Regions from separate parts of the Homo sapiens genome. Here region 1 is linked to region 2. Evidence: fine-mapped expression QTL. A gene starts in region 2. The other region holds a variant in brackets. All regions are shown on one strand. Distances are between the middles of the regions. Region 1 overlaps CUL4B (cullin 4B). Region 2 holds the start of CUL4B (cullin 4B).

What was found. PIP is the estimated chance that this variant, and not a neighbour inherited with it, causes the effect. A credible set is the group of variants that fine-mapping cannot tell apart.
Region 1: its variant is the best candidate, but not a certain one, in a credible set for the expression of CUL4B in whole blood (TOPMed, PIP 0.56).

What each region holds. Positions count from the first base shown.
Region 1 is chrX:120,533,196-120,548,967 of GRCh38, forward strand. It overlaps CUL4B (cullin 4B), which reads right to left. Exons shown (of 20, transcript NM_001079872.2): 3 at 13,941-14,044; 4 at 13,352-13,421; 5 at 12,249-12,322; 6 at 11,286-11,448; 7 at 10,919-11,008; 8 at 10,532-10,614; 9 at 9,771-9,838; 10 at 8,407-8,525; 11 at 7,175-7,367; 12 at 6,073-6,177; 13 at 5,465-5,575; 14 at 4,929-5,014; 15 at 3,732-3,839; 16 at 2,635-2,748; 1 more. It overlaps LOC124905273 (small nucleolar RNA U13), which reads left to right and starts at 11,120; the gene lies at 11,120-11,223. The variant G/A (reference allele first, on the strand shown) is at 5,051.
Region 2 is chrX:120,557,944-120,570,497 of GRCh38, forward strand. CUL4B (cullin 4B) reads right to left here and starts at 3,019. Exons shown (of 20, transcript NM_001079872.2): 1 at 2,140-3,019; 2 at 1-96. The coding sequence starts at 2,695. RefSeq lists enhancers at 2,088-2,973, 2,971-3,265, 2,974-3,858 and silencers at 3,239-3,318, 3,619-3,668.

The DNA of each region.
Region 1 (15,772 bases), 23 kb before region 2:
GAGTTTTCTCCATTTTCATGGTCTCATTCTAGTCTAAGTCCCTTCTACTTTATGCCTGAATCATCCCAATAGCATCTAAACTGGAATCCCTTGATCCTTCCAGTTGCCCTGTAGATTGATTTCAGTAAGTGGTCCAAATAATTACTTCCACCATGCCACATAGTTGAGACACTACAGTGTAGGTTTCATTTGCTAGACTTATCAGGTTCTCCACAATCAGGCCCTACTCATCTTACCTAATTTTTTAACTCACTATTCTATGTTACAATTAAGCTCTTCATGATTCTTCATGATTCTATGCTACAATTAAGCTCTTCATGGGCCTATACTGTGCCCATTCCTACCTCCCAACCTCATCTCAAAATATTTCCCCTTGCTGTATATGCCTTCTCCCTGACCAAAACTTGAAGGCCCAGCTCAAATGCCACTTGCTTCATGACAGCTTTCCCAATTGTGCCAGTCCACGGTGATCTCTTGCTTTGTTGCACTCTTACCACACTTATAGTCAGTACCACAAGCCAGTACTTATGGGTTTTGACATTATTTCAAGTGTCATTTCCCCCTTTCCCTATGGTTATATAAAGAGTTCTGGCCAGGCGCGGTGGCTCACACCTGTAATCCCAGCACTTTGGTAGGCCGAGGCAGGCGGATCACGAGGTCAGGAGTTCGAGACCAGCCTGGCCAACATGGTGAAACCCCGTCTCTACTAAAAATACAAACATTAGCCAGGTGTGGTGGCAGGCGCCTGTAATCCCAGCTACTCGGGAGGCAGAGGCAGGAGAATTGCTTGAACACAGGAGGCAGAGGTTGCAGTGAGCCGAGATCGCGCCACTGCACTCCAGCCTGGGTGACAGAGCAAGATTCCGTCTTGAGGGGAAAAAAAAAGAGTTCTGGCTGGCTGCAGGGGCTCATGCCTGTAATTGCAGTACTTAGGGAGGCTGAGGCAGGAAGACCCCTTGAGCCCAGGAGTTTGAGACCAGGCTAAGCAACATAGTGAGACCCTGTCTCTACAAAAAAAAATTTTAAAAATTAGCCAGGCACGGTGGCATGCACTTGTAGTCCCATCTGCTTGGCAGGCTGAGGCAGGAGAATCACTTGAGCCTGAGCCATGATTGTACCACTGGACCCCAGCCTGGGTGACAGAGTGAGACCCTGTCTCATTAAAAAAAAAGAAAAAAAAAACTCAAAACAGTTCTGAGGCAAGGAATTATTCCTATAAATATGTCCCCCAGACCTCTTAACATAGTGGTGTGCACATAGTGAACAATTAATGTTTGCTACAAACCTATTCCAGTTGCCTGCTTGATCTCTTCTAAACTGAACTCCTCTCCCTCATTAAACATTAGCAGCACCAGTGTTTGAAAAAGAGAGACCTGGAGTTCCTTTTTACCCTGTTGAAGAAATAAAAGTGTTTAGTCATCACTTTTTTAAAAACACATGAAAAATTAATCATCTCTTATAGGAAAAGCATTTTTCAATTAGTGGATTTAGAAACATGATTAGCATTATCCAGCAAAGCCACTTGACGTGGTAATACAGTATTTCAGTGTGAGGTTTAGGTGTGACCCTACCTAAAATAGGGGGAAGGATTAGCTGACCTTTTAACAGTTTTTTTTTAAGCCTTATAAATAGAATACAGTAATGAAAATTAATCAGCCTTATGTGTCATTCTAGATATTCATCACAAGCAGCAAGAAATCACTATTTCAAATGTATTTTTGATTTGTTTGGCTCAGATTAGTCATGAAAAGCTAAAGTTTTTTGAGATTAGATATTGCACACTGTTTCCCTTAACTCCCACTCTATTCGTAGCTCCCAGCAACAAGATTTCTGTCAAGAAGTGGCAGTGTTAGACTAAGTGTAGTTGCTCATGCCTGTAATCCCAGCACTTTAGGAAGCGGAGGCAGGGGGATAGCTTGAGCCCATGAGTTTGAGGTTACAGTGAACTATGATTGTGCCACTGTACTCCTGCCTGGGTGACAGAGTGGGACCCTATCTCTAAAAATAAACAAATAAATAAAAATAGGAAGTGGCAGTGTACAGTTTTCATCCACAGGTGAGGAAAGGGTAGGGGGAAAGTTCACTGCTTTTCATTTTGCAGAAGGGCCAAATCAATCGTGGAAAGACCACACACCTAAAATTACTTAAAAATACATAAAGCTATGACAAACTATCACTGTCATCATGCGGATATCTAGGATACAATTATAAAACAACAGCTTAAACTGGCCAGATGCGGTGGTTCACACCTGTAATCCCAGCACTTTAGGAGGCCGAGGCGCGTGGATCACAAGGTCAAGAGACAGAGACCATCCTGGCCAACATGGTGAAACCCCGTCTCCACTAAAAATACAAAAAAAATTAGCTGGGTATGGTGGCGCACGCCTGTAGTCCCAGCCACTCGGGAGGCTGAGGCAGGAGAATCACCTGAACCCAGGAGGCAGAGGTTGCGGTGAGCCAAGATAGCGCCACTGCACTCCACTCTGGTGACAGAGTGAGACTCTGTCTCAAAAAAAAAAAAAAAAAAAAAAAAGAAGAAAACAAAAAACAATAGCCTAAACTTTCAGTTAAGAAGGATGACCTAAACATTAAAGATAAAGATGAAAACTAAAAGTTTTGGGAACATCCACTTACCTCTTTAAATTCTGCTTTTAACACACAGTGTCCTAGGGTTGACTGCCACTGAAGTTTCCTGCCACTATGTTTGCCTAGGTAAAATGTCTTGAAAATCTCCTGAAGTTTTACCATCTAAAGTAAATAAAATAAGGCTTTATTTAAGCTCTGTATCCAATACCACATTTACCATTTTTATACTTACCTCATGTGATATAGTTTCTGGAAAATTTTAAGACTATATCCAGTAGGTCCACCAATCACTTTGATGAAAAACAATGATCTCCCAACCACCAAATCAAATGGGATTTATTAGGATTTATACCTTTTGCTCTCTCTGAACATTTAATCATCCCCTCTTTTGAAACATTCACCTGCAGCAGCTTTTGTGCCTCTGCACTATGCTGCTTCCTTTATTTCACTGTTGCTTCTGCATTGGTTTCCTTCACAGGTTCCTCTTTCTACCATCTGCCAAATGTGAGCCTTTTCTAAAGTTCTGCCTCTGCTGTTTTTTCTTCCTCTTTGAGAGAAATCTACTCCCTGGGCCTTCATAATCATCTCCATGGAGGATTCTCAATATCTATCTGTCTAGCCTTAATCCCTTTTATGGGCTTCAGTCCTGGACTAGACAGTTTACCAGGAGTCAGGATAGATTTAATCAAGGACCCATCATTTAGCAATCCCACCTATGGGTGAAATATGTGCAAGAATTCTTAATAGCTAGGTAGAGTGAGGGGTATAACCTGGGAAGATGGAAGAAGAGCCAGGGAAATTGACCCTGAACCCAGAAATTTGGCATTATTAGCTATGTGCTTAACTGGACTTCTAAGTACAAAAGTAAAACATTAAAGCAGTTGGTATTTGGTGTTGGTGCGCTTACTGACATACACTTTTAAAAGTATCCATGCCAAGCCTGGTGACTTACACCTGTAATCCCAGCACTTCGGAAGGCTGAGGCGGGGGGGATCACTTGAGCCCAAGAGTTCAAGACCAGCCTGAGCAATACAGCGAGACCCTGGGTCTCTATTTTTTTCTAAGTATCTATTTTTAAATGACAAGCAAAATGGAAATGCTATGATTTCTATGCCTATAACTCAGTTCTAAACAGTAACTCTTACCTCTGGTGGTAAATGAACTTCCATAGGCACATATGTCGGCCAATAGCCCATTGTCAGGATATTCACAGTTAACTCAATATTTCCCGGAACATTCTGATTCTGCATATACTATAAGAAGATCAAAACACACACTGAGATCTTAAAACTGCATACATTTCATATCATAATAACCTATTTAAGAAGTTCCCTGTTATGAAATTACATGCAAACACTGACCATCCTTAAAATAAAAGGCAACTATTAAGAAGACTTTAAATGAAACCTACACAAAATGCACTAGGCAAGTACAGAGGTTAACATTTTGATACAAAGGCATACAAGGATCACATGACCTCATTACAGGCGTTATCAACTTAAATAATTTCTCACATACAGCTGGGCCGTTATAGGATCTCTTCTCCATTCTTTTCCCCAATACCACCTGCAGTCCCCACCTTTGAATACCCCTATGTGGCTTAAACACCTTGCAGCAACCCCCATTCCTCACCCCCCAGCCAGCCCAAGTCTCCAGTTTTTCACTTGCTCCACTGCCTGTCTGCAGGGAGTGACCTGGAGTAGGGAAGGAAAAAGAGGGGAAAAGGGCAAAGCAGATAAGCCCTATTCTGTAGCTACTATAGAATCCATAATCTTACTGACCCTGATTTTTTCTTAATTCTTTCACTTCCACTTCCCACCTTAGCAACACTGTGGGGTAAAGAAGTCACTACTAAAACCCAAAAGAGGAAAATCTAATTTGCCATCATTATCACCTATGATCTTAAACATTTCAAAACTACTTTCTACCTACATCTTCAAAACTGTGGATCTAGCTTTCTATCCCCAATGTCCCCAAAGGCTTTTATACAGCTGCATTATCACTTCTCCTCTCTCCCCATTGCAAGCTCTGAACATGCAAATTACCAAACGATAAGATGCTGAGGAAAGCCCTTTTCCCACTATAGCTCTTCTTGTACTGACTTCAGTTCAATACATTTTATTTTTATTTTTGTGTTATTCTGGGTGTTTGTCAAAAATAAATCCTAAAGTAGGTCAAATATACTTATATTTCACCAATTTTTTTTTCTACTGTGAATATCACCTCAGTTGCCATGAATTACAACAAACACGTTTCTATTTATCCTCTTTAGTACAAATCATAGCAAGCAGATAACTAAATACAACTAAGTTTGAGGAATTAAGAGTTTAACTCACTTTTACCTGTTTGAACTGAATCATGATGTCTTTAGAAAGTTCCATGTCTTTAAACATTCCTTCAAGTTTGCTGGTGAAAGCAGCTCCGCATTCTATTAAAGATGTTTGTACATGTATAATATTTTAAA[G/A]TGGTAAAAACAAAAGAGGTTTAAAAGTGGGAAACACGAAATACAAAACTTTAGTATGAAGTATGATCTGTAACTTTCATAAGAATAAAAAGAAATCCTTACCCCAAAGTGTATGCCCCATTAATTCAGAGTCAAACTCTTTAATCCTGTAGTAACCTTATCTACTATTTAGGTATAAAATAAATGGGAAATTTTTATACAAATAATAAAACCAAGAACAATGCTTTATCTTAAAAAAAACAACTCTGGATATTATGTACAATAAGTTGGAAACCTCAGGAGCTTGCTCAATTTATGTTTTCATCATATATACATAGACATGAGTGACAAAAGAGGAAATCGATTGAAAGGGTAAAAAGCTAACATTCTCCTTCAGGAATCAAAGAAAAGGAACAGAAAGAATGAGAAACCTACCATGTTTAAGTTTGGACAGCATTGATTTTTCAGCATCTACAGATGCACTCTTTCCGACTAACAGGCGCTTGGCTAAATCTTTCTTATAGAAGGCCTCAAAAACATCCTTGCCTATGTAAAAAGAAATGCAAAATTTATAATATTCCAATAAAAAGTACTGACAAAACTGCTTTAAAGTGCTTTAATAAAGCACACCATTATTCCAAGTTATTTTACTTTACACATTTTATTTAAGTTTGTTAAATGCAAGAAACAGTAGAGATCCATTTTTGTGCCAGACATTTCGAAGTCTTTATTGTAAAACTTTTTTGCATGTAACTGTCTTGATTGCATTAACTTTTCTTCAGAAAAGCTTTTGTGGACTGGTAGCTTTGGTGCCAATATTTAAGAGATTAAGCCAAGTAGCAAAAATCAAGGCACTTAATACTAGAAGAGCCAAAGCATAGGACAATCAGGTAACATTCCTCACGTATCCCCCCAATGAATTAAACACAATTTTAAATCTGTAATTTCCAAATAAATATTCCCTCCAGTTTGAATATACTTGCTAGCTTCTCTGTTGAGTGCTATTTTAAAAGAAAAATATTAAAACATTAGTAAATACTTACCATAGATAAATCTAAATATGATCATAATTTTATCCAACATTTTCTCAAGTTCTTCATCTGTAGCTTCTTTGTTGCCTGCACGAAGTTTTGAATCTACATACTTAGCTAAAATGGGGGAAAAGTTTGTTGTTTAATAACCGGGGAATACACGAGGTACTGGGCACTATATATACCCAAAGAGGAGTATGATACACTGAGTTTTTCAATACTTCAGAAATTTATATGCATTTTTAAAAGTCTCCAAAGTCAGGAAGATCAACTGACTTGTTCAGTGCCATAGAGCTAATAACATCAGGGCCTGAACACAAACCCAAGTGTTCTGACTCCAGATCAAATGTACTTCCCACTATACTGATGTTTATGAAAATAGGATACGGATATCCTGTGGGGGAGGTCTCATGTAGCCCTGTGAGGGCATCATGTAATCCAAGCCACGAAAAGACATGAGGAATCTTCTGGAGTATCCATTTTATAGGAATAGTAAGCAATCTTAAACATTACTTTTCTATTAAAATAAACCAGATACATCGTAGAGTAGAAGGTAAAATTTGCTACATGTTTACGGATACATAGTAGATAGGTTGCAACAAAATTTCATCCTTTTGGCAGAGGACCCTAGACCTTCTCAGGTTACCTCCTCCTCTGACACTAAGGGTACTTGGGTGGAAAAACCTGAGAAGCACTGTAGTGTATATCACATCCTTATGCTAAATGGGCCCAGATTATTAGGTTTATTTTTGCCCTGGACTTTTTTCTTTTTCACTGACAACTGTAATTTCATGCTGCCCTTTTTTGTAGCTTGAAATAACACCCTGCCTCATTTTTAAATCATTAGGCTAGGAAAACAGATTAGCTTATTATCAATAAAGGTAAATAGTGTCCAACGTACTGTCTTTGAAAGAAAGCACATTATGTTTGACATGTGGGCTTTCAGTACTTACATCCAGGTTTTTAGAAACACTCTTCAAACTTGATATACCAGCTAAGCAACCTCAAACAAATCAGGAATTAGTAATACTACAACCTGGTAAAAATTTCAGATTGAGATTTTATGACTCAAAGAACATCATTAAACAACTGGAAAAAGGACTGGAAAACATACCTATAAGTTCAGCTGGTTTATTTGGTCTTTTGTTAATGAACGTTTCAAATGCTTCTTTCATGGCATTGATAAATTTCTCATTCTTCAGAAAGCAGATATCAATTATATGGTCAACCTTATCTTTAAAATCCAGCAATTCTTGAACCATGGTTTTATCTTTTTCAGGATTAATTACAATAGTGCTGCCAAATGCCTAAAACAAAAAATTACCACTTTTTACTGTAATCGAATTGTCTACAATGAAAACAATCCCCAAATCATATTTTAAGTGGCATATATATTTAAAGATCTTTAAAAAGTAAGATAAAGCTATTTTTAAGATGGAATCTTGCTATGTTGCCCAGGCTAGTCTGAAACTCCTAGGCTGAAAGGATCCTCCTGCCTCAGCCTCCCAAGTAGCTGGAGTTACAGGCATGTACCACTGCACCTGGCAAAATAAAGCTGATAGTGAAATGAGGACAAAAAAATAAAGTGCTAAATATCCACACTGTTAACCACTCATCTATAATCACAAAAATAGTAAGCAATGATCACTGGGCATATGATATCATAACAGGGTATTATTAGAAGCCTCTGGGATCTTTTCCTTATTTTTAAAGAAGTCAGCTTTCAACTTCCTTAAAATGGCAATCTGGCTTTAGTGTAAGATTGAAGAAAGGAAAGAAATTTGGGGTTCAAAGTCTTTTTCTACATTTACTGCTTTAAGTGGTAGAGACAGAAATTATGTCAGCCATCAATCAGGTTTTATAGCTGATATGCCACACAGCTACCATTCTCAGGTTGACTGTTCTCAAAATTCCCATTACTTTTTAAACAAATTTAAAATTCCCTTAAAAGAACTGGATCAAGTCCGGGTGTGGTGGCTCACGCCTGTAATCCCAGCACTTTGGGAGGCCAAGGCGGGTGGATCATTTGAGTTCAGGAGTTCAAGGCCAGCCTGACCAACATGGTGAAACCCCGTCTCTACTAAAAATACAAAATTAGCCAGGCATGGTGGTGCATGCCTGTAATCCTAGCTACTTGGGAGGCTGAGGCAGGAGAATCACTTGAACCTGGGAGGCAGAGGTTGCAGCGAGCTAAGATCGTGCCACCGCACTCCAGCCTGGGTGACGAGAGCAAAACTCTGTCTCAAAAAAAAAAAAATTGGATCAAACAAGAAATGCTTGCCAATATGCACTCTTGATGTGTAGATAAGCCATAAGAGAGAAAAATCACAGGTAAATTGTTAATACCTTGATATATTCGATCCACTGCTGCAAAAGAACCTGAACTCCACCTCGAACTCTACTGAAGAGCTGATACAGAAGAGACAAATCTTGAATTCGGTTTTCATCAAGGAGGTTATTTAAACCTGTATTTTAAAACATTTTGGCATTAAAATATAGTGAACAAAAAAGTGAACAAGATTATCAGACATTTTAATAAAATTTGAGTTATAATCATTATTGTGATACTGGTTTGAACTATGACTAGTCTGTATGTGAGTTGTAATGTAAGATTTCCTTTGAATTAAACCCAACCATCTTTCTGGGTAAAAACTAAATATAGAGACTTTAGTCGCTATAAAAATAAAAACAGGCCAGGCACGGTGGCTCACACCTGTAATCCCAGCACTTTGGGAGGCTGAGGCAGGAGGATCAATTGAAGCCAGGAGGTCAAGACCAGCCTGGGCACAACAGTAAGACCCCCTCCCCCTCTCTATTTTAATTCAAAAAGTTAAAAAAATTAAAAAGAAAAAGAAAAATGGTTAACTCCATAATGGTTTGTGCCATTTAGCATGATAGATTAGAGGCAAAAACAAACTTATAAAAACTGGCTTACATAAATATACATTATAAATACCTCATATATGTAGTAGCCATATTATGTACATAGTTATATTTCAGAATACTGGATATAGCCTGTGATATATCAAAAGCCATGCATAAATAGGTCAAATTTAAATGAGGCTCTAATAAATATTTGATTTCCAGGATGAAATAACAGTATAACTGCATTAAATTTCTAAATATATAAATTTTTATACAAAAGAAAATATTATTGGGGAGAAAGGTAAGGCTTTTACCTATTTGCGGCATTCTCAAAGTAAAATGTAGGGTATACTCTAAATTCACTTGGGATTAGAAGTGCTTGGTTTGACATGCCATGAACAACAAAAAACCCTCACCGCTTTAGTGTAAAAAGGAATACCTTTCCTTACTGAAAGCTTACATATTAAGTCAAGAATTTCCCACTTTTTTTCTTTTATTTTATTTAAAGAGACGAGAGTCTCACTATGTTGCCCAGGCTGACCTCAAACTCCTGGGCTGAAGCAATCCTCCTGCCTCAGCCTCTCAAGTAGCTGATACTACAGGCACATATCAACCACTGTTTTTTTATTGGTATTTGTGGATCCCTCTCTTCTAGTTCCTGTATCTTTCAGATAAGAAAACTGGCACCTCCAGGAAGTTTACTGTGATTAATAAGGATTGTGTCCATCCTCAGAAATGCAGCCACATGCTATCAAACTTTTAAAAGGGCAACATCTTTAAAAATTCCCTACTAGTTTGCCACTACCATTTAAAAAGCAATCTCTTATTTACAAATTGCCAATTACCTTTCTGAAGAATTGCTGTTAAGTGTTCACCTAGAAGTTGTTTTTCTACAGTAGCAATTAATGACTTCCTACAAGGAAAAAAAAAAAGGTTAGTATTATTGACGTTTGACTTCCAGAAAATGTAAAGCCTCTCCTGAGGGGGGAAAAAAATCAAATAGCTCATTTTATGTTGATTTCAAGATTCCTATCCTATGTATAAATTTATTGGTGCTCAGAGTTACTATACTTTATGCCTAAAAGAAAAAGACATAAAGGAACTGACAGGCAAAAATTTTAAAAAAACACTGCATATTTTAGAATTTGGTTTACATAACGAAATAAATATCTCCAAGACCTTGCTGTAGTCGGCTTTTTCCAAGTTTTGCTACTTTTATTAGGAAGGTAAAGAAGTACTACATACAGAGGCCCCTCGACTGGCAATATTAATACTTAGGAAAGCACAGAAATAGGGGAATCCACTGAATTTTAATTGGCCTGAAGAGTTTAAAGGTCACATCAGCCTCTAGTATTATTTCTAAATTACCTTCTAAACACACACACACACACACACACACACACACACACACACCCCTAATAATCGAATCCTTGGATGAAAACTAATTAACTAGGGAAAAGAATAACTTGAAGTTTGTATTATGAAAACAACTGTTAACACTTCAAATCACACCTGAAAACAGTTACTAACATGTTTAGGATGGCTAAAGTGCTGCAAGTGATTTAACGACAGTTTAAGACTATTAAATTCAGCATGTGGTACTTACTGGGTGGTCTGATCTAAGTAAGTAATAAGTCTGTCTGCTTCTTCTTCTAGACGTTTGTTAACATGATGTAGATATTCAGGAACCTACAAAGATAGTTTTTTACATTATTGTTTTCCTCCCCATAAATCATTCAGAAAATGTCAAGTCCAAAAGATCCTGGAAGTGGCCCTGTCAAATGTGACAGGGTAGAATCATATGTAAAAATTTATAGGTAGAGTTTATGATCCAGAATTCTGGCCTTTAAGAAGAGAGAAAAGAAAGGAGCACCTAAGTGAGAGAAGAGCATCACAATGTTGGGAAGATAAATGCAAAGGGAAGCTTATATTCTACAAAGTAAGGTCTATTGTGAGAGACAGTGAGAATTTATTAGTCATGATTTTTAAATACCTCTCTTTCTTGCATTAATTTTTGGCCTTCAGCTGCATAGAGCCGGTTAGTTTCTTCCAAAAATCGTTGTTCAAAAGAATCTTGATAAATCTGGAGGGGGAACAAAATGAAGGAGATCATTTATTTAGCAAATATTTACTAAATGTCCTCTATGTCTATGTAAACAGCATTATGAATTTGGTTTTTAAACATCAAGCTAGGATCCTTTTGTAGTTGAGAAGCATGATGATTGGGTTTTTATGCTCATATATGAGATGTGCTTCCTTCAAACCTTGTTATGACATCAGCACATTACCTGTCTGATGTGGGGGGAAAAAAAACTAGGATAGCAATCAGCTCTGTATAGTAGGTGTAGTAGTTAACTTACTTGCAAATCAGACAGCATGCTTAAAAGGCTTCGAAGTAAACTTCTATCAATTGCTTCACCATTCCTTTCCCTCTCAATCAAGAGAAGAATGCCATCAATTGTCTTATTCTGCACTTTCTGATCACTTATAATATGAGCCCTAAATAACTCCAGTCCCATGTCCCTAAAATAAAAAACACATATAACCTAAATTAATTGACAATACCACTTCTGAAGAGGTTTGCTTAACTTCTTACCACATGTTCCCATGCTAATTAGGGCTCCAGGGCTTTGAAGCAGCAATTGTCAAAAAATAAAATCCACACATTTAATTTTGAATAACATTATTAGATTAAAGAACACAGGAAACTCATTTTGCCTTTACTGAGAATTGAAGCTAAATTCCTATTTTCCTCCATAACTAAGTTTTGTTGTATTATTTCTTTTTGTGGATTTCTTCTTTGCTCAAATCAACAGACAAAATTAGTTCTAAGACATAAAACAGTTTTCACTGTACTGGTATTGAAAGCTTATTTGGTTATTTATCAACTGGTTTCAATACTGAAGAATCAGTGAATTCTGATCATTGCTGTAGGCAGATGATAGGTACATGGGAGGGGGAAGAGTTCATGATACTATTCTATTTTCGTGTATACATGGACTTTTGCATAATGTTAAATGAGTGAACTCTTGATGGTCAGCAGCAAAATGAATCACAATCATAGACATTCCAGAGCAAACTTTAGTCCCCTCGGCTAACAAAAAACTTCTTCATAAATTAATATATGCCCAGGGAATGTTAGCTATCTTCAATATTAGCATAGGCAACATATTATTAGGAAGATAAAACTGCTACAAAGGAAAGTCTAGAACCAAATGTGAATTTTTAGAATATTCACAGTATAGCTTATACACTTTCATTAGTGTAATTAAGATTTGAGTATGATTTGGAACAATCTTTTCATATTTTTCTGGCATCCTTACCAAATGGAGGGTAGCATTGAATTCTGAAGAACGTAAGTTCTATCCAGAAACAAAAAAATGCTCCTGATCATGATCTGCCAATGAAAAAAAAAGAAATCAAACAAGTTTTGTATGTTGTGAAGCTGAAATATTTGCTTTCAATAAGAATAAAACTGAAGAGTTTGTCTGTATATATATTACATTACTAAGATCAAACATGCAGATAAACACATCTATCTGAGAATATGCCCATATAGTTTTTATTACTCAACAGTCAATCCTTTTTGTGTTTTCTAGAAAAAAGACACTTAAAATGGCCCTCTGATTTACTGCTTGAGAAGTAACTGAAAAATCAAGGGGACGCTCATATAATTCTTCCTGCGCCACAGTGCTAGGGAATGAAGCTGCCTTACATTGCACATGTGAGGGTTTTTATTGGCAGGGGGTGGGGGTGGGGAGGGGTGATGGATTTTAAGATTTTAATCTGTAGAATATAAGGTATAAACCAGATTAAGAAAAATGGAAAAGGTTGTTATCTGAATAAACTAAAACACAGGACCATCAGGCACCTTCACAGGTAATCAAATAGTGGACAGGATAATCATCAAGAGAGAAAAAAAAATAAGAGTGACAGACGAAATGTAGCTTTTTAATGAATGAGATAAATACATTTTTGGTAAGTGTGACAAAAATAAAAATGAACCTAAGGTGCAAGACATTCTGAAATGCAGGTTTACCTGTAACTTGTGGTTTTAAAATAGAAAACTCAACCAAAACTAGTTTCCAATTCAGAAAAGGAACTTGGGAGGAAGAGTGGGAGGGGGGCGAGGGATAAAAGACTACAATGGTGCAATGTATACTGCTCTGGTGAAGGGTGCACCAAAATCTTACAAATCACCACTAAGGAACTTACTCATGTAACCAAATGTCACCTGTACCCCAATAACTTACGGGAAAATAAAAAATAAATAAATTTTTAAAAAAAGAAAAAAAAAGAAAAGGAATAGATATTGAAGCAATCTCCCTATTGCTAAGTTTTAAAAACTAACATTCCTGTATTTGAAGAAATGTTTTTAACTATTAATACAATGTTTAGCCGAAATACAATACTTTTTCCAGCTTACCATTTGTCTGCAATGGTTTTGCCAGCATCTATCAATCTTCTTTAAAAAAAGAACGCTATCCAATGAATCCCTGAAACATATGTTAAGGATATTTTAAAGCGTTTGGTACAAGTCATATGTGCCATGTGACAGAGAGCATATTAGTCTTAAACATGAATACCTTGCACACTAAGTGAAACTAAATGGCACTTGATTATGCACCAAAGTGCTATTTCCTAATTTGTAAAAGAAAAAAAAAACATAGTTTATACTAAAAAACACCTTTAAAAACAAGTCTTAGACATAACTGAACATCGTGTTTTCAGTTTACTATTTCCCTTAGGAGATTATTTTTCCTCAAGTGGAAATCTGATAGGGCAAAAAGGATAAAGACATAAGGACATCTTATTTACATGAATACCACACGTAGTCCTGGACACGAATTAAGGCTGAAAAGTCAAAATGTGTTTCTTTCTCGAGAAACACAAGGCACAAAAAATGACAAACCTACAAAATACAGGCATTCTACTTCAAGCTGGGTTAAACAGTGAGGGGTAGGGACAGAGAGGAAGACAAAACTATTCACGATTTTTTGTTTTAAAAAGGATATTCTCTGAATTGATGAATCTGTGCTTTGATGTGATCTTCGCAGATCTGTCTCAGCTGTTTGTACAAGTTTGCAGAAATCTTGTAAGAACAGAGATTTTCTACAGCCTGCAAGGTTAAAATACTTTCTTAAGGAGAGGATGAAGGATTTCTCAACTATTTACATCAGATTCTTATTAATTTGATATTTCTACCACATCAGCTTATTAAAAAGGGTTATTCATCCACTTAAGACACAAGGTAAAACAACAAAATATATCAATGTGGGTGGCAAACTTTCTCATAACCAATGCACTGTATCAAAAAAGAACAAATTACAGGTTTAGCATCTTTAATCTAAAAATCTGAAATCCAAAAAGCTCAAAAATCTGAAACTTTTTGAGTGCCAACATGCTGCTCAAAGAAAATCCTACTTGGGCTGGGTACAGTGGTTCATGCCTGTAATCCCAACATTTTGGGGGGCCAAGGTGAGAGGATTGCTTGATGCCAGGCTAGAACAGCCTAGGCAACTGTGATGGTTACTACTGAGTGTCAACTTGATTGGATTGAAGGATACAAAGTATTGATCCTGGGTGTGTCTGTGAGGGTGTTGCCAAAAGAGATTAACATTTGAGTCAGTGGGCTGGGGAAGGCAGATCCATCCTTAACCTGGTGGGCACAATCTAATCAGCTTCCAGTGAATATAAAGCAGGCCAAAAAAAGTGAAAAGGAGAGAAGGGCCTAGCCTCCCAGCCTACATCTTTCTCCCATGCTGGATGCTTCCTGCCCTCGAACATCAGACTCCAAGTTCTTCAGTTTTGGGAATCAACCTGGCTCTCCTTACTCCTCAGCTTGCAGACAGCCTATTGTGGGACCTTGTGATCGTGTAACTTAACACTTAATAAACTCCCCTTTATATATATCTCCTACTAGTTCTGTAGTTCTGTCCCTCTAAGAAAACCCTGACTAATACAGAAACAAAGCAAGACCCCATCTCTACAAAAAATTTAAAAATTAGCTGGGCCCAGTGGTGTGTACCTGTAGTTCCAGCTATTTAGGAGGCTGAGGCAGGAGGATCACTTGAGCCCAAGAGTTCAAGGTTGAAGTGAACCATGACTACGCCACTGCACTCTAGCCTGGGGACAAAGTGAGACCTTGTCTCAAAAATAAAAAAGCTGTCTTGTTTAAAATGTTAATCATTTTCACAAGCAGAGCTTCATTTTGGGTTTAAAAAAGAATTTCACCTGTTGTTTATGTATCAGATGGGTTGGGCAGTCCTACTACAATTGAATTAAAATTTACTTAAACGTTCTTGGATTTTCCTGAACAGAACAAAGCAGAAATTATTGCTAGTAGTATGATAATGAGTATGATATAATACCAAGGAATTTTCTCCAACATTTCAGTTTAAGAATAGTTAAATATAGATTTTAAAATCTGTGGCTGGGCGCAGTGGCTCATGCTTGTAATCCCAGCGGTTTAGGAGGCTGAGGCGGGTGGATCACTTGAGGTCAGGAGTTCAAAATCAGCCTGGCCAACATAGTGAAACCCCGTCTCCACTAAAAATACAAAAATTAGCCGGACATGGTGGTGCACGCCTGTAATCCCAGCTACTCAGGAGGCTGAGGCAGGAGAATTGCTTGAACCCAGGAGGTGGAGGGTGCAGTGAGCCGAGATCACACCAGTGCACTCCAGCCTGGGCAACAGAGAGAGACTCCATCTCAAAAAGGAATAAAATAAAAAATAAATAAAATTTGTACAACTGAATTAACGCCAATTACAAAAGAAAGAACTGCATTTTTACTTCACTTTAATAACTGAATTGGTCTTCTTTTATACTCAGATTCCAGAAGGATG
Region 2 (12,554 bases):
TGTACTTAATTGAAGTACTATTCTGAATAGCTTCCACTGCTTCTTTCAGTTTTTGCCAGGTTTCATCTGTGTAGTTTTCTGGTAATTTAGGCTTATCTAGATGATATGTAAAAGGTTGGCATCAGAATACCATGTCAGATACAGTAACCAAAGATTCATAAAATATAATAGCATTACTAATTTTAGGGTAAATTGTGATCTTTATAACTATTACACCTAATCATTAAAGTAACCACTGTATTTAAGCTTAATATAAAGAATAAAATTTGAAATGCCATAATACTGTTTAAGTCATTTTGACTCACCTATTAAAATTGAAGGTGAGGTTTTTCTCCTATTGATTGTATTGCTTCAAAAAAATAAAAATTCAAGAATGACCATAAAAAATAACAATCCTGATCTTATTTCATCATGTGTAAAACCTAAGTCGACATGAATTTTTAACCTGAGATTTAAAGTACTGTCTATGTGCAAGGTACTTTATAAGCCTCTTAATCTTCCCAACAATACCCTGAGGAATCTATTTTACAACCGAGGAAACTGAGGCTGGAACTCATTTAGTAAGCTTGCCCAAGGTCATCATAGCTAGTCAATGGCAAAGCTGGGATTCTAATTCAGGTCTGTTTGACCCCCACATTTATGCAGCATCTATAGAAATGGAAACATCTTAACTCAGGTTTTAAACTACATTTACGAGCAGAGTGAAATTTTTAAAGACTGAAAGAAATGACTCCAGAAACCATGTTGCATTTTCAGAATAGAAAGAAACATCTTACTCTAGGCTTTAAACTTCACTGACTAGCAATGAGTGTGGGGAAAAAAGTTTTAATTAGAATATCCAAATGCCTTAATAATATGCTTTTATTTTAGGAGGGAGAGAAAAAAATCTCTGAAACCAATTTGAAAATGCAACCAGGATCATAACTCATTTAAAAATCTTTAGCTACAAAATCCATATATTTTTAAGTGAAATAATGAAAACGTTACTCAATTACAATTCATATTGACTTCAGAAAGCTCTACTATTAAATCAGAAACTGAGAGCCTGGGTATGGGAAGGTAGTGATATAAAAAAGAAAGGGTTAAAAATAGACAACACCATAGCCCTCTGCTTGAGACAAAATAGAGCATACTCCTGATTTCCACACAATGTTAAAAACACAAGCATAGAGAACCTAATCTTCTCAATACTAATATTCAGCCACAAAGCACTTATCTCATAAATATTACTTAAGTTCATTCATTTACTTCTCTATTTAATAAACACTGTAGCACTGATTACCTGGCAGTTACGGGTGTTGAAAAAGTAAGTCAGAAAAACAGAAACACATTCAACAAATAAAAATTAATTCAGCTCAAATACATTTTTAAAAATTGCTGATTTTATATTTGCCTCAATGTATTCATAATACTCTCCTCACATATCTCAAACACGGTCTGAACAAATTTTCCTAAAAGCTGCAGGTCGATACTTTAAAATCCATTTTAGTGATGGAAAAAATAGATGTAGTAATTGTTCCTATCTTTAGACTAGTGGTACACAGAGTTACTACTTCTGTGTATACACAATGTTTTTCACTTTCAAACCCTACCTTTGGAAAGAAATGCAGAGAACATAAATTTTTCTTCAAATATTCCTTCCAAATGAGTTTCATGAATACAGTATAAATCTAATTATAAATCTTATTTGAGCATAAAAAGATCACTATTGCTACCTGCATTTCTAGGCATTGGATAATGTGGCCTACTGAAGCATAAAAATAAAAATCCCAGCAATGCCAAGGCTCGCTATGCACCTGAAATAAATAAACCTCTTTAGAATACAAATTTCTCACCTGCAAAATCCGGATCAATCATACCGATTGTCAGTGTTATAAGGAATAACAGATTAAATACAATAGGTTGAAAAAGACCTCAAAATACTGCACAGAAACACCCGGTGTATGCTTCAGCACAAGGATCCTAACCACCCCCGGAAAATGAACCCTCCACCAAAAAAGGACCTCCCCTCCACCTCATTGATTATGCATAAAACATTAGGCCACCTCCAAACTGTTTAATATATTAACATAAATAGAGCACGTGACCCCTCGAGTGTCAAATCCTTATTAGGTGATTATGGATTTTGGCCTTGGTTACCTTTAAAGTTCTTGATCACTAACTTCTTAGCAGAGCCAGGTTTGCTGTTAGCAAAGCTAGAGACGGTGGTAGAAGATTTGGCTAGGCCGTTTGCATGATGCACCGAAGCCACAGAAGAGATTAATATACTCTTATTTTTAAGTTGCTGCTGCTGAGATGTTGCAGCAGTTGGTGAAGATGAGGAGGAGGAGGAGGAGGATTCCTCAGCCATCTTCGCATCAAACCCTACAAACTCCAGGGTGTCTTCAAAACGCAGCTTCTTCTGTATCGGTACGTGGCTGGAAGCAGCCACTGAAACCCCCAGGCAGAAGGACGAGGTTGAAGGGGATGCCGAATCCCTGGGTTGTAAAGGAGGAGTGGAAGAGGAGGAAGAGGTGGAATCAAAGTCTTCTCTCTCGTTACTACTGTTACTGCTGCTACTGCTGCTGCTGTTTAACTTTCTCTTCTTGGCAGAGGTGGGCGGAGTGGTGCTGGTATTACCATCAGTGGCAGATCTGACCTCCTGAGCAGCAGCAGCAGCTGAGGGACTGGGGGAAGAAAAACCTGTTGGAAACATGAAAATAGCGGGGTCAACAGGCAGAGGAGCATCAAAAACCTACGTTTATATGCCTGCGTGCGTGTAGGAGAGAAGGTAGCAATGCTAGAGGGGGAAGGGAAGAAAGAAGAGAGGAGAAACACAGAGGACGAGAAGGAAAGTGAAGGGGGGGGCTACACCGGGGGAATGGGAGGGTTTGGGAAGGCGGATAGGCTGACACCAGGAGTGAGCAGAACGAGGGGGGAGAGCGAATGAGGAGGCAGACAGGTAAACGGCCGTGCCGTCCCCCTCCCCTGCTTTTCGATCTCTCTCCCCCCCTTTCTGCAGGAGCGACTCAGCGAGTCTGTGAGGCTGCAGCTCCTCCTCCTTTTCTCCCTCTCCCTGGGAGGGGAGAGGCTGTGGTTGGGGGAAAGGGGGAGGGGGAAAGAACCAGGGCTTGTTATTGTCAATAGCACAAGAGGCTAAAGATGGCGCCATTTCCGGTCACGCGGCGCCGAGGGAGGGGCGGTGTCAACCTCAGGGAGTGGGGGTGAGGGAAGCGCTGCAGCCGCCCGGGGGGCGGGGGAGCTCGCGCGTGAGGGGGCGGCTGGAAAGGGGCGGCTAAAGTGCCCCAGACGCTCGCGCTAGTTCGCTCCTGCTCCCGCTCCCCTTCGCGATCCCCTTTCCTGGCAGCGCCTTCCTTCCCTGGCCCACCGGGAACTCCCACTCCCTCCTTAACGGTCCCGCGGGAAGCTTCGCGCCGCAGCGCCCTTACCGGAAGTGACTGGGCAGACACTTTTCATAGCGCCCAGATCCCGAAGCCCCCAGGTCCGCAGGACTTGAGTGGGGGGGGGAAGGGGGGAGGGAGAAATTGGGGGGAAGAAAAGTGGATAGGAGGAGGGGGCGGGCCTTCGAGACACCTTCGGAGCTCCTGATTGGAGCTTTCTGAAGGCGAGGGGGTGGGGGGGGTGGCGGGAGGAGCGGGAAGGAGCCTCGGGGGAGGGAAGGTAGTGACGGCGAGGGGCGGAGTGAGCTAGCTGGGAAAACGGAGGAGGAGGAAGAGGAGGAGAGAGGGAGGGACGGAATAAAACGTAAGGGTCCGGGAGAATAGAAACTTTGAAAGAGATGAAAGAATAAGGAGTGGTTGCAAGGCTAGGGGAGTAACCCTAAATAGAGGAAAACATAATCATGCCATTATGCCCGCTGCTGGAGAGGAATGTCCCTATGTTAAGATAGGAAAGGAGAAGAAAACGAGCTAAGATAGGAAGAAAAGGACTTTTTAATTCGGTGCCGGTATAAATTGTTTCTCTTTTATCTCAAGGCACCACAGACCCAAGGCTGAATAAGGCCTGAATTTTGATGCCTTTCTCTTTCATGTAGCTGTAAATCCTTTTATCTTACTACCAGGAGCATTTTCTAAGCTGGCTGGCCAAATTAAGTGTGTATTCTAAGGCGAAGAAATGGAAAGGTAACTAACCCCTCACCCACCCAGCACTATGCCCAGGATCGTCCTAACCCCCACTCTATCAGTCCTTAACTCAGTAATTTATAGACCCAACAAAGCTAAGACCCACTTCCTTCTTTTGCCAAATCTCAGTTTACACGCTGTCCCAAAGGAGACATTTTAGAACCATATCGGCAAAAGTCAGTGTTTTCTACTAATGTGTTTCATGACCCCATGCTTTACAATTGATTATTGATTTAAAAAATCTTTAAGTTTGGTTAAATTAGCAACAATAAACCTTGTAAATTCCCTGTTGGGAGTTTTTACTTAACCTTGGGGCATTCTCAGAGGGAGGTAACACAATATCAAAAACTAAATTTGCCAACCTGTTGATCATTCTAACTGCAAAAGCATTCAGTTAGCATGTATGGTAAGACTATGCAAGGTCTCTGCCCTTGAGAAGCCAGTAGGGGAAGATAGTTTCAAAACTAATTTCCATAACAATAATATGACATATATACAAAGTGCTGTCAGAAGAGGCAAAACAAGAAATTTGGGAGAAATCTGGAATAGGAAGAGTTCTACAGAGATTATGTTTATGCTGTGTCTCAAAGTGGGAGTTGCCAAAAAGAGAAGAGGGAACAGGATGAAAGGCATTCTGGGGAACGGAAACAAGGGCAAAGCAAGGAGTGAAAGGGCCAGGCCTGTTTATGGAAACATGGAAAGTGCAGTGAGGCTGGGAAGTAGGATGTCTGGCTGGGAGTAAGGAAGATGAGGCTCAAAAGTGCCTGGCACACCAAGCCAAGAATTTGGAGTCTACTCTGTAGGCGATCATAGATAGCAGGGAGACAATCCAGCAAGCAGAGCTTTTACAAACCAGGGGTGACAGGATTGTGAGTGGAGTAAAAGCAGCTTGTATGGTATACCTTGTGATAGGTGAATCAGAACCCTGCAAATAAATCAACTTTCTAACTTTGTTTAAACAGGCCCACTTGTTTTTGTGTCTTGAAAAGTCCCTGATTAAAATGCAAATCAACCTTTGGCATTATTAGACAATATCATTGCTATTTGATGACAGCCTGCTGAAAGCAAGGCTCTAATGGAACTTAGAACCGCTGAGAAGGGAGATGGGGGCCTGAAAGGAGACAGATGGAAGCACTCCTATCTGTTTTGAATATACCACATAGTTTTTTTCATTTTGTTTTGTTTTGAAGACAGAATCTTGCTGTGTCGCCCAGGCTGGACTGCAGTGGTGTAATCTTGGCTCACTGCAACCTCTGCCTCCCGGGTTCAAGCGATTCTTGTGCGTCAGCCTTCTTGAGTACCTGGGACTACAGGCATGTATCACTACGCCTGCTAATTTTTTTTGTATTTTTAGTAGAGTCAGGGTTTTGCTATGTTGGCCAGGCTGGTCTCGAACTCCTGGCCTCAAGTGATCCGCCTGCCTCAGCCTCCCAAAGTGCTGGGCCTACCATATAGTTCTTGCTGCCCAAATAGAAACAGTAAACTCTTAAGGCCAGGAAAGACACCTTAATACATTGAACTTTCCTTTATCGTGTCTCACAGTTCACAAAATGCTGAACCACTGTAAATGCAGGGTAAATGCTTATTGAATTGAGTATTTCATTGCATGTGAATAAAATAATGCTGTGTCTTTATAAGGGAGGATTAACTGACTCATTTTCAGGATTTAATGAACAAGGTTGTTCTAATTCATGTAGTTAAAATCTTTAGGAGGGTATATGAAGTGCTAGCCATTTTAAAAAATTACAAATATTAGTGCAACTGAAAGGGAATGGACATAAAGATAAGAGAAAGCTGCTTTTGCCATACAAAGATAAACTTTTCTACTAACCTAAATGATAGCTGAGTCCTGTTAATATTTAACTACATTCTAGTAATAATAGTTCCCTATCTCACATGGTTATCTAAGCCCTTCAGTCTTCTGAGTTACATGTTGGTTTTAAAAAGCACAGATCTGGCCACGCGTGGTGGCTCATGCCTGTAATCCCAGCACTTTGGGAGGCCAACATGGGTGGATCACATGAGACCAGGAGTTCCAGACCAGCCTGGCCAATATAGTGAAACCCCGTTTCCACTAAAAATACAAAAATGAGCCGGACATGGTGGTGTTCACCTGTAATCCCAGCTACTCAAATGGCTGAGGCAAAAGAATCCCTTGAACCTGAGGCAGAGGTTGCAGTGAGCCAAGCTCACACTGCTGCACTCCAGCCTGGGTGACAGAGTGAGACCTTGTTACAAAAAACAAACAAACAAACAAAAAACAAGGCTAGGTGGCTCAGGCTTGTAATCCCAAAACTTTGGGAGGCTGAGGCGGGCCGATCACCTGAGGTCAGGGGTTCAAGACCAGCCTGGCCAACATGGTGAAACCCTATCTCTACTAAAAACACAAAAATTATCTGGGCACGTTGGCAGGTGCCTGTAATCCCAACTACTCGGGAGGATAAGGCAGAAGAATCGCTTGAACTCAGGAGGTGGAGGTTGCAGTGAGCCGAGATTGTGCCACTACACTCCTGCCTGGGCAACAGAGAAAGAGTCTGTCTCAAAAAAAAACAAAAACCTTCCAAGTTGGTTTGTAAAATATCTTTTACATCAAGAACCAACTAATTGAGGCTAGTTGAAGAACATAAGCGTATATTCTGTACACCCAAATGTTTGCCAATCAACGTTAAACACATTCTCAACATTAAAATACATTTTCAAGGTTGAACTCACGGGAGCCACACTAATCAAGATGTGTAATGTAGGACACCATACAATTATAGCCATTATCAGACTAAACCAGACTGGGCACTTAACACATATTCCATATTTAGGATCTTTCATCTTGTGAGTTCAACTCATACCTTAGAAACATTAATTAAACTTTACAATGTTGCCACATGAAGTGTAGTTATTATTGGCCACCTTTAACCAAGCTGTTTATAAAGGTAAGTATATGTGTAAAGGAAGAAATACAAACAAAGACAGGGAGCTAGCTTTTACAATGTCAATTCCTTTATTTCTGTGGACATCTCCCTAAAAAGGCAGAGTGTAACCCATTTCCCCTTTTTGATCACAGGGATTCCCCAGGGTGCTTGGGGAATCAAGATGTGTAATGTAGGACGCCATACAGTTATAGCCATCTGGGGTGCTTTAGGTCCTCTCCAGATATCTCATACCAGTGGCTTGCCACTAGACAGACACTCCTGGAAGCCTTCCTATCCAATGGGTGGGATTTTCCTTAGGAATGGGAGAGACTGCTTGCCCAGGAGAATCTGAAGATGTTTCTGAGAATGCATTAAAAAAACACAAACAACAACAAAAAGCAAAAACCAAAACAAAACAAAACAGAAAAAACGGCTGGGCACAGTGGTTCACACCTGTAATCCCAGCACTTTGGGAGGCCAGAGTGGGTGGATCACTTGGCCAGGAGTTTGAGACCAGCCTGGGCAACATGGCGATACCCTGTCTCTACTAAAAATACAAAAATTAGCCAGGCCTGGTGGTGCACATCTGTGGTCCCAGCTACTTGGGAGGCTGAAGTAGGAGAATTGTTTGAACCCGGGAGGCAGAGGTTGCAGTGAGCCGAGATTGCACCACTGCACTCCAGCCTAGGTGACAGAGTGCAAAAAAAAAAAAAAAAAAAAAAAAACTGCTAGGTAAAGGGCAGTCCATTTACTTTTTTTTTTTTTTTTTGTCTGAGACAGTGTCTCGCTCTGTCACCCAGGCTGGAGTGCAGCGGCGCCATCTCAGCTCACTGCAAGCTCCGCCTCCCGGGTTCATGCCATTCTCCTGCCTCAGCCTCCCAAGTAGCTGGGACTACAGGCGCCTACCACCACGCCCAGCTAATTTTTTTTTGTATTTTTAGTAGAGATGAGGTTTCACTATGTTAGCCAGGATGGTCTTGATCTCCTGACCTCATGATCCGCCCGCCTCGGCCTCCCAAAGTGCTGGAATTATAGGCGTGAGCCACCGCGCCCGGCCCAGGCAGTCCATTTTCTTCATCCACTTTTCTGAAGGATCATCTTTGAAGCAGGAAAGTACAGAGAAGGCAAACTAAGCAATGCTGAGATAGTAAAGATTGTATCATAATAAGGGCTTTGTTATGCTATCAACACCAATGGGCTGCTGAGGAGGCCAAAGCTCAAGCAAAAATAATCCAACTACACAATGTGAATTCATCAGTTTCCCATCCTGAGATTGCTATATAAAAGCAAGGAAAGTAATAACATGTGCTGAACCTATGTGCTAAGTAAAATGTAAATAGATAACAGATTTCATATGTATGTGTGTGTGTATAGGTATATATATATATATATATATATATATATATATATATATATATATGTATATATATTTGGGTTTTTTTTTGAGATGGAGTTTCGCTCTTGTTGCCCAGGCTAGAGTGCAATGGCACTACCTTGGCTCACCACAACGTCCACCTCCCGGGTTCAAGCGATTCTCCTGCCTCAGCCTCCCAAGTAGCTGGGATTACAGGCATGCAGCACCACGCCTGGCTAATTTTGTGTTTTTAGTAGAGACGGGGTTTCTCCATGTTGGCCAGGCTGGTCTCGAACTCCCAACCTCAGGTGATCTGCCTGCCTCAGCTTCCCAAAGTGCTGGGATTACAGGTGTGAGCCACCGCACCCAGCCAAATTTCATATTTTTAGCAAAATTGTTTATCTTACATCGCCTGAAGTTACTGACTTGGTACATCAACCATTCAAGCACTTCGTTCCTTAGCTCAGAGATTTTATCTGTCATACCTGTGAACCATCTGGAAAGCAGATTTAAGGACTAAAAGTTAGAGATAGGCTGTTTTCCCTGAGGGTTTGGGAGTGGGGAGCCAGAGCAGCCACAGATGACTTCTCCCTTGGGTGCTGCCAAGGACTTGCTTATGGAGTTGCTGGGCCTATATATATATTTGGCGAGCTGATGTGCCATGGCATGGGCCTATTTTTAACATTCTGTTTACTTTATCGATGTCTCTCAAAGTCCCTCCAACCCCACCCTGCTCAATGTTTGATCTAATGGCATTCAGCTTTTCTTTTTCTCACAGACAAGGCCAATTTAGATTTTTTTTTTTTTTTTTTTTTTTGAGACAGAGTTTGGCTCTGTCGCCCAGGCTGGAGTGCAGTGGTGCAATGTTGGCTCACTGCAATCTCCATCTCCCAGGTTCAAGTGATTCTCCTGCCTTGGCCTCCCAAGTAGCTGGGATTACAGGTGTGCACCACCATGCCCAGCTAAATTTTTTGGTATTTTTAGTAGAAATGGGGTTTTGCCATGTTGGCCAGGCTGGTCTTGAACTCCTGACCTCAGGTGATCCGCCCACCTCGGCCTCCCAAAGTGGTAGGATTACAGGCATGAGCCACTGCACCCAGTGCCAATTTAGATTTAAATCCAGGGTTCCCAACTCACTGTACAATAGAATGACCTAGGAGTTTTTTTTGTTTTTTAATCTTTACCCAGGTCCAAACCTAGTCAGTCCAATTCAATCAGAATCTCTGTGAGGAGGACCTCAATTATCAGTATTTTTAAGAAGCTCTTGGCCAGGTGCGGTGGCTCATGCCTGTGCCTGTAATCCCAGCACTTTGGGAGGCCGAGGCAGGAGTATTGCTTGAAGCCAGGAGTTCAAGACCAGCCTGGTCAACAAAGCGAGACCCTGTCTCTATCGAAAAAAAAAAAAAAAAATTAGCTGTATGTGCTGGCATATCCCAGCACTTTGGGATGCTGAGGTGGGAGGATTGCTTGAGCCCAGGAGTTCCAGCTGCAGTGAGCTATGATGGTGCCAATGCACTCCAGCCTGGGTGACAAAGTAAGACTCTGAAGAAAAAAAAAAAAAACAGCTCTCCAGGAAATTCTACATACCTCCAAGTTTGAGAAACCATAGTTGTAGATGAAGTAAGTATGTCTTGTGATTTGAATGGGGCTGATAAGCACTTGTATTCCGTTTAATGCCTGAAATTTCATGATTATTTATTCACTCATTTGGATAACACATTGCCTCCTTCTCTAGGAATCCTTTTTTAAAGTGCAAATTAGCCAAGGAGTCTTAGTTCCTAACCCTTTAAGGTGAATGCCTCTTGGAGGAAAAAAGCTAATAGGAAAGTCCTAGGAGACTGGAGGTAAACAGAACTAGAAGAAGCCACTGCAATAGGGAGTGGTGAGAGGTGAGGTTACCAACCAGGAAGGAAAGATTTCTGAGAGTACATTTTGCTGACCTCACAGTATTGCCTAGGGCCAATCCTGCTTTTTGATGACTGCATATTTAAAACCTAATCAAGTTTGACAGCTTATCTAAGCTGCCAAAATCATACTAAAAGAAAATTTAAATATTTTTTATAAGCAAAGCAGAGAGCAGACATTGGGTATGTAGGTTTAGAGCTATCCCTAAATGCCCAACTTTTAAATTATCACTCACCTCAGGGAAGTTTCTATTACCAAGTCATGTATTTTTCCTGCTTCTATTACTAAATGTCCTTTATTCCCACCAACAGCATTATTTCTCTCTCCAATTCCTTTGGTCATTCAACAAAAATATATTGAGCAAATACTCTCAGCAACGCATGGTGCTAGATGCCGTGAGGGAATACAGAATAACACAAAATTCAATTTGTAGTTGATTTCACAGTTTTTCAAAGCACTTTCACATACAATCTTATTTTATCCTGATAAACACACTGTGAGATAGATCAAGTACCATCCCCACTGTACAGATAAGAAGTAGGCTCAGCAAAGGAAGTTAAAATTATTTGCTAAAGTCACAAAGCACACAGACCTAAGTCCAGTTCTTCACAGACTCCAAATACAGCACTTCCCATAGTTTACAATTTCGTAAGGAGACTTGCCATAAAATAGTCTCAAGTAGTAGACATGTTAGAAAAAGACGTTCAGAGCCCCACTCACCAAGAGAAAAAAATGAAGAATAAGAAAATAACTCTTTTATTGAGATAAGCTAAATCAAAATGCCCAAAAGGAGACCAAGCTTGCATGCAGTTCAGGCCACCATCAAGCAGGTAGGACAAAACAGCCGGCAATGCACATTTAAGGATATGGTGGCAATCTTGTTCTAGAGAATCAGTCTATTCTCTGGCTGGACCCTCAGCCAGTGGCTGATCTTCACAAGAGGTAGAAACTGGCTGCTTCTCCTGGCCAAATCCAGGAAAACAGTGAAGGAACCCTGCCGGCAGACCCATCATGTTCTACTCCCTTAGTATACAAAGACAACCCTTGCCCTCCATTCTCAATTGGCAATGTAGGTTTAGAGCTATCCCTAAATGCCCAACTTTTAAATTATCACTCACCTTAGGGAAGTTTCTTTTTTTTTTTTTTTTTGAGACGGAGTCTCGCTCTGTCTTCCAGGGTGGAGTGCAGTGGTGCCATCTTGGCTCACTGCAAGCTCCGACTCCCTGGTTCACGCCATTCTCCTGCCTCAGCCTCCGGAGTAGCTGGGACTACAGGCGCCCGCCACCACGCCCGGCTAACTTTTTATATTTTTAGTAGAGACGGGGTTTCACCGTGTTAGCCAGGATGGTCTCGATCTCCTGACCTTGTGATCCAACCGCCTCGGCCTCCCAAAGTGCTGGGATTACAGGCGTGAGCCACCGCGCCCGGCTGGGAAGTTTCTATTACCAAGTAATATATTTGGTGGGTAAGGCAGACAATTACAAGACAGAGTGACAAAGGCCACTATGAGAACGCAGAGGTGGGACACCTGGCCCAGCCTAGGAGGGTGAGGTGGGGTGCAGTGGAGGAAGGGAATTAAGAATAGCTTCCAGAGAAAGAAATCCAATTTAAATCCCCGAGAGTGAGTGGGAATTAGCCAGGCAAAGGGAGTGAAAGGGAGCAGGGGGCATAAAGAAGGAAGATAGGAAGCACATTTAAATCCTAAAGGAAGAGAGAGTAAGGCACATTCAGGACATTGCAAGGAGACTAGTTATTAGAGTGTAACTTCAGTCCTAACCAGAAACTCTGAAGAGCTAATGAAGGAAATGAAGGCAGCATCCCAATCTCAAGTCTGGTACAGCAATCTTAGGCCTCTTAGCACCAAATCTTACTCAAATACCCTACTTGCTGTTGGAGCTGTGGCTACAGATAACACTTCTTGCCTTGAGCCACACTGGTTCAGGAATTGGATTTACAAGTCAGGCTCACTCTTAGATATAGGAGGTGAGAATCACAAAGCGGGAGAATAGGGTTTGACACGTGCAAAGTAAGACAAGGGCAGACTTGATAATAAGAACCACAATACTGGGCAACACTACAAAAATTCAGATAAACTACAGCAGGGTTTGGAAACCACAGCCCATGGACCAAACCCTGTCCTTTACCTGTTTTTGTAAATAAAGTTTTATTGGAACATTGCAATATTTATTTGCCTATGTATTTTCTGTGGCTGCTTTTATGCTAAAACAGCAGAGTTTAGAGTTTTGACAGAGACCGTATGGCCCACAG